Linked DNA regions of Homo sapiens. The protein of the gene in region 1 purifies or fractionates together with the protein of each later gene. This does not show direct contact. Each region holds a gene or a part of one and is shown in the gene's direction. Other genes may lie near its edges.

Region 1 (3,644 bases):
AAGCACACAGTCGGCGCAGATGCTTCCAAAATGTCTGCAAGGCTGCGGCCTCTACTGCATCCAGATGGTGAACTGCCTAACTCTACCGCGTCCCGATGGTGAACTGCTAACTCTGCCGTATCCCGATGGTGAACTGCCGAACTCTACCGCATCCCGATGGTGAACTGCCAAACTCTACCGCATCCCGATGGTGAACTGCTAACTACCGCATCCCGATGGTGAACTGCCGAACTCTACCGCATCCCTATGGTGAACTGCTAACTCTGCCGCATCCCGATGGTGAACTGCCTAACTCTACCTCGTCCCGATGGTGAACTGCCTAACTCTACCACATCCCGATGGTGAACTGCTAACTCTGCCACATCCCGATGGTGAACTGCTAACTCTGCCGCATCCCGATGGTGAACTGCCAAACTTTACCTCGTCCCGATGGTGAACTGCCTAAACCTCGTCCCGATGGTGAACTGCCTAACTCTACCGCATCCCGATGGTGAACTGCCTAACTCTACCACATCCCGATGGTGAACTGCTAACTCTGCCGCATCCCGATGGTGAACTGCCAAACTTTACCTCGTCCCGATGGTGAACTGCCTAAACCTCGTCCCGATGGTGAACTGCCTAACTCTACCGCATCCCGATGGTGAACTGCCTAACTCTACCACATCCCGATGGTGAACTGCTAACTCTGCCGTATCCCGATGGTGAACTGCCAAACTTTACCTCGTCCCGATGGTGAACTGCCTAACTCTACCTCGTCCCAATGGTGAACTGCCTAACTCTACCACATCCTGATGGTGAACTGCTAACTCTGCCGCATCCCGACGGTGAACTGCCAAACTCTACCTCGTCCCGACGGTGAACTGCCAAACTCTACCTCGTCCCAGTGGTGAACTGCTAACTCAGCCGCATCCCGATGGTGAACTGCCAAACTTTACCTCGTCCCGATAGTGAACTGCCTAACTCTACCGCATCCTGATGAACTGCTTAATGGCGTTGTCCCTGGGTACACATTGGGTGCAGCTCCTGCAGTCATGGGCTGCTCACAGCCGTGGCCCTTTTGGCACAACCATTGTTCCTTCTTGTCTTGGAAACGAGGACCCGAGGGAGACCATCCGTCCATCCTAAAATTGGGACGTTTGGTTTTCTGTTGTTGAGTTGGAGTTATTTGTAGAGTCTAGAGATCAGTCTCTAGGAGACGTGTGATCTGCAGACATTTCCCTCCATCTCTGGGTTGCATTTTTCTGTCCATTGATGGTGTCCTTCGATGCATGAGAACAGCCTTTGATGTACATGTAGGGGTTGGTCAGGCAGAAGGACGGTGTGGGTGGAAGCGCTGATGCCTGAAGAAGGGCACCGTAGGCAGAGAGACCGCATGGCTGGCTTGCAGGGCTGGGCCCGCACGGAGAGACAGATGTGCACAGACACACACACAAGCCCACTGGGCAGGTGCACTCCGTGGGAGGGCGTCGCTTATGTTTAAAAAGTGCCCGTTTCCAAGCCCCTTGGAGAAAGTGTCATAAAAAGACAAAACGTGAATGGTGTTTCTAAGGTGGGGGAAGGGGCTGAGCCCTAAAGGTAGAAGCTTCTGGAAAGTTTCCAGAGGGCCCAGAGCCTGTTTAAGATGTCGTGCCTGCGTTAAGTGTCCAGAACTGTCTGCTCCTTTCAGTTTCTCTTGGACTGACCTTTTCCTATAAAACTGTAAGGAAATAAAAAGTAATGATGTGATGTGGGCCGGGCACGGTGGCTCACACCTGTAATCCCAGCACTTTGGGAGGCCAAGGCGGGCGAATCACCTGAGGTCAGGAATTTGTGACCAGCTTAGCCAACGTGGCAAAACCCCGTCTCTACTAAAATTATAAAAATTAGCCGGCTGTGGTGGTGGGCACCTGTAATCCCAGCTACTTGGGAGGCTGAGGCAGGAGAATCGCTTGAACCCGGGAGGTGGAGGTTGTAGTGACCCGAGATTGTGGCACTGCACTGCAGCCTGGGCGACAGAGTGAGACTCCATCTCAAAAAAGAAAAAAAGGCCGGGTGCAGTGGCTCACGCCTGTAATCCTAGCACTTTGGGAGGCTGAGGCGGGTGGATCATGAGGTCAGGAGATCGAGACCATCCTGGCTAACACGGTGAAACCCCACCTCTACTAAAAATACAAAAAATTATCCGGGCATGGTGGCGGGCGCCTGTAGTTCAGCTACTCAGCAGGCTGAGGCTAGATAATGGCGTGAACCCGGGAGACGGAGCTTGCAGTGAGCAGAGATCGCACCACTGCACTCCAGCCTGGGTGACTGAGCAAGACTCTGTCTCAAAAAAAAAAAAAAATACCAATGTGGCAGGCAGGCTGGTGGCTGTCTGAGGTCAGTCCAGAGTCCGGAGAAGCAGCATTTTATTTATTTATTTATTTATTTATTTATTTATTGAGTACTGTCACCCAGGCAGGAGTGCAGTGACATGATCTCGGCTCACTGCAACCTCCACCTCCCAGCTTCAAGTGATTCTCCTGCCTCAGCCTCCCGAGTAGCTGGGATTAAAGGTGCCCACCACCACACCTGGCTAATTTTTTGTATTTTTAGTAGAGACGGGGTTTCACTGTGTTGGTCAGGCTGCTCTCAAACTCCCGACCTCATGATCCGCCCGCCTCGGCCTCCCAAAGTGCTGGGATTACAGGCGTGAGCCACCGCGCCCGGCCAGAAGCAGCATTTTTAAACTTGTTTGGCCCTCCCTAACACCAACCTTGGCAGTTCCTGGGCTGCAGTAAGCCGAGACTTGGAAATACATTCGCCTTGGAGAATTCAACTTCAAAATGCATACGAAGTAGGTCAGGGTGGAAATAAAGGCACTGCCCTTTCTCCAGGCACGCTGGAGTCCACGCCCTGCCTTTGCCCAATGCCCTCTGAGGGAGAGGCCCTGTGCCTTGCACCCAGCGCGGGCCACAGGCGGAGGCCCCATTCCAGGCAAGCCGTGCCCATGGAGAGGCTGGCCTGCTAGGCTGTGGGGCCCGATGGCCTGACACTGTATGGACCACGCTCCTGCCCTGCCCTGCCCCGCCCTGCCCGTGGCCCGTGTGCAGAAGTGGGCAGGCCTGGGTTGCTGGGCCAGAGCCCCGAGATTTCCCCCTGCCCCACTGGCTGAGTGTGGGGGAGCTGCTTCTCCACTTCCGCGTGGGTCTTGGCCCTGGGAGGCCAGTGGCCGAGGCTGGTCTCGCGGGCGCTCGCTCCAGGAGTGGCGCGTCCCCTCAGCGCCCTGTGCTTCCTCGCAGGGATCGACTACAAGACCACCACCATCCTGCTGGACGGCCGGCGCGTGAAGCTGGAGCTCTGGTGAGTTGGGGCTGCGGCACTTCAGTTCCTGGGTGAGGACACAAATGCCGAAGGGAGAACAGAACCCTTAGAGAAACAGGAAGGCGTCCTGTTTGCATTTCACTTGGAAGAGCCACTTACACAGCCCCTGTTTAAACATAGAATGGATTTTACTCCAACAGGAAAAAGACAGTCTGGGACACTGTGTCCCTAGAGATCGCGGCTCCCCTCCTGCCCCGGAAAACCTGATTCCGTGGTGGCTGTGAGCCCCTTCCCTCCCCTTCTGTCGGCTTCACCTTAAAAAGCATTTCCCAGCGGGGTGTGGTGGCTCACGCCTGTCATCCCAG
Region 2 (3,650 bases), on another chromosome or scaffold:
TCACACAAAATTTCTGTATTTATTAGAAATATATATAAATAATCTGTATTTATTAGAAATATAGGTATTTCTAATAAATATAAATTATGTTGCAGGTGATGGATTCCTGATAAAATGTGCTTTCTCATTTTTGCAAAAATAAAAAGTAGTCAAGAGCATCAGTAATTAAAACAACTTCATTTTTGTAAGAAGAAGGAATTCTAAATTATTGGCCAAACTGGTAAAATCTGCTTTTAAAGAACAATTAATCTAGATGAGAATATTTTTTTCAAATGTCTTCAGTAAGCACTCAAAAGTGATGTCTTTCATTTAATACAGGAACTGCCCATTGGGATAGCATTAGTTCCCATAATTCGCAGATGTGGATACCAGGCAGTTTTAACAGAATAGTTTTCCTACTACTTTCTCAGGCTCATCTTTTGTAAATGATAGGAAGTATTTAAGTATATAGACCATTTTAATCACTGGAAAACCTGATCAGAAAACAGTTTCATCATTAAGGCTGTCAGGTTTCTTTTGACATATTTATTTATTTAAAGATAGTGAGAACTCTGGGATAGGGAGGTTTTCTTTTCCTTATTTGGAGCCCACATGTTGTGAAACTGATCTGCTTACAGTGCTTTTCTTAGATTTCCTTTATTTTATGGAGTTTACTTATTTGGACTCGAATATTTTAATCCCAGAACCAGTGATCAAGTTGATAATTTCTGAGACACCTGATGTAGGTCTGTTTAGCTTAATAAAGGTGTAGATTTGCATCTTTGGAAAGGTTTTGTTTCCCTGTTAATTAGACTAGGGAAGGCATGGCTTCCTGGAATACTGTATCTTAGTTGTTGACACTGCCTTACCTGTTGTGAGGAATGCATTGAATGTTTGTTCACTGATAAAGAGGAATTTAAGGAGAGGCTCAAACACTCAACTTAATGTCTTTTGAATTTTAAGTTTTCTTGCTAACATGGAAATTGACTATGTAATTCTCATTTATCTGAACTGCTAAGCTCCCAAAATTGAACTTCATAGGTAAATTATTTGGAGATTTTGATCATGTTAGTATTATTTTTCTGGTTTATATGCTTTTCCTAATTTACTTCATGTTTCTTCTTTAGCATGAGAAAAATTACTTGCCAAGAAACTCAACTAAACTTGAGCCTTATAACTGGGATAAAATAGTTGAGGTGGATGGAACAGGAAATATGTCTGTTACTTTGCTGGGGGAGGATGGAGGACAAAAACAAACCTATTCAGTAGTCTGAGTTGATGCAATTGATGCAATACTTAGAAAAAGAACAGCCTTTTTTCTAGTTTAAAATAGTTTTTCGAGCCAGGTACTGTGGCACTCGCCTCTAGCCCCTAGCTACTTGCATCTTCAGTCCTAGCTACTCCAGAGGCTGGGGCCGGAGGATCACTTGAGCCCAGGAGTTCAAGTCTAGCCTAGACAACATAGCAAGACCCCTCCCCCTGCTACCCCTCCCCCATCCCCTGCCCCCCACCCCCCTTTTTTAAAAAAAAGCTTTCTCAGTAAGTTACTAGTACCTTTTGCTTTCAAATATTCAGAACAGTCAGGGCCATACATATAGTTCAAACACCTGAAAGGTCAATACATTTCTAGAAAAGACTCCTTTTAAGAGTGAGAATTCTGTAACATGAAGCCACATGGATATTGTAAGGCACTTCTTTGGACGCTTCCCTTAGGTGAGTGACTGTAATAAATCCCAAATGTGCATCCTCCTCCCTTAAGTGTTCTGACACAACCAAGTGGTGCAGTGAGCCTGTTTCCATATGTTGTGCAAAGCTGAAAGTGATAACGTGGAATGTTGCTTCAGTTTATTAGTTATGTTCTGTGTTTGGTTAGGCTGTGACCATGTGGCCTCCTCATGCGTTTAGCCAAAGTATATTGAATGTTATCAACAGATTTGAACATTTCCAATGTGTGACGCACATCTTGTTCCCAAAATTTTAGTGTTTCCTGCCTAATTTGAAGGAGAAAAGGAGAGTGTGGGATTGGAATCACCATGGGAATCCATCAGTTTTTTACCTCTAAGTAAAGAATTCCTGTTGGTTTTAGGCCAAAGTCAAGCAGTGGAATGAGCCATAGGGAGAGGGACACTGCTGATACCTGTCTATGGCCTAAGAAATGTAGCTGCAGAAGTTAAAATGCATATATATAAATTAGATAAGGAAAGCATGGTTTTTAAGTAGTTCCTATAGAATTTAGACCTAATAGTTTCTGCTTTTTATGCGCAGTTCCAATGATTTAAGGAATCATTAAGTAATGATATGTAAACATAAATATGCATAGATATTAACTTCTCTTTAATATTCTCTTAAGCTGGCCAGGTGTGGTGGCTCACGCCTATAATCCCAGCAGTTTGGGAGGCCGAGGAGGTGGGTGGATCACTTGAGGTCAAGAGTTCCAGACCACCATGGTCAACATGGTGAAACCCCGTCTTTACTAAAAATACAAAATTAGCCGGGTGTGGTGGCACGTGCCTATAACCCCAGCTACTCAGGAGGCCAAGGCTGGAGAATCGCTTGAACCTGGGAGGCAGAGTTTACAGTGAGCTGAGATCGCACCCTTGCACTCCAGTCTGGCCAAAAAGAGCGAAACTCCATCTCAAAAAAAAATTCTTTTAAGTTCTCTTAATATCTCTTAACATTAAGTTCTCTTAATATCTGTGCATGTTTCTGTTTAGATATTATTACTTAATGATTTCATGATGCCTCTACTTCACAGCAAATTTATTCATCCAAAAAATAGATCACATGAGACCCCCTGATTTATACTAATTTATACTTAGTTTATTCGTTGCTTTATTTAATAAATACTTCTTAAGCACTCATTAGGTGCCGGGCACTACACTAGCTGCTGGATAGGTAATGGTAGACAAACCATTCTTAGCTTTTGAATGTGTAGTCCATCTTGTGGGAGAGACACATTAGGTTTTGAATGTATAGTCCATCTTGTGGGAGAGACACATTAAGAAAATAATAACAATGCAGGCATGTAATTAAGTAAGTTCTAAGACACAAAGCTAGGGGAGAGGATAGAAGAAAGACCTGCATTTAGCGTGAGGGTGAATTGTGTGTGTGATCTTCAAAAGCTTCCTGAGGAAGAGGCATCTGAGCTGAGATCTTAAGGGTGAAATGATATTAATTAGGGAATGGGGGCTGGGCAGGGAAGGGGCAGAGGCGAAGAATATTTCAAAGGGGCTGACCTAAACAGGAAGGGATGTGCCTCCTAGGAAGAACTGACAGAAGGTAAGTGTGAACTAGGCAAGCCACAGGGATGGTGTAAGATGAGGCCTCAAATTTGATAATGTAGAAGGCATCAAGAACTGCCCCAAGGGCCACGTAGGGTGAAGGGTCAGATGGGTAGGATAGATAGGAAGTGCTCTGCATTTGGGATAAGAAAGAGGGACCATTGGGACTGAGACGATTAGCAGGGCTTCAGAACAGATACGGGATTGGAGCTTGTGTCAAAGAATGGAGAGATCGGGAAAGAAAGGTAGGGAATTCTAGATATGAGGGAACACACATGAAATTTATTTTCCCCTGTAAATGCTGTGTCTGCTTTCATTTCTCCATAGCACAGTCATACCTCCTTTCTCCCTCTTTCCCTGTTGCTGACTGTTAGGGGCTGAATTATGTCC

The links. The genes of interacting proteins can lie anywhere in the genome.
Region 2: the proteins of RAB40C (region 1) and SH3RF1 purify together in Homo sapiens (affinity purification with mass spectrometry, with the first as the bait; one large-scale study listed by BioGRID). This does not show direct contact.

The regions. Positions count from the first base shown.
Region 1 is NC_000016.10:613,951-617,594, forward strand, and holds part of RAB40C (ras-related protein Rab-40C), read left to right. Parts: exon of another isoform or gene 1-2,314; intron 2,315-3,257; coding exon 3,258-3,318; intron 3,319-3,644. UniProt on the Homo sapiens protein: RAB40C small GTPase acts as substrate-recognition component of the ECS(RAB40C) E3 ubiquitin ligase complex which mediates the ubiquitination and subsequent proteasomal degradation of target proteins.
Region 2 is NC_000004.12:169,264,457-169,268,106, reverse strand, and holds part of SH3RF1 (E3 ubiquitin-protein ligase SH3RF1), read left to right. Parts: intron 1-3,650. UniProt on the Homo sapiens protein: Has E3 ubiquitin-protein ligase activity. In the absence of an external substrate, it can catalyze self-ubiquitination. Stimulates ubiquitination of potassium channel KCNJ1, enhancing it's dynamin-dependent and clathrin-independent endocytosis.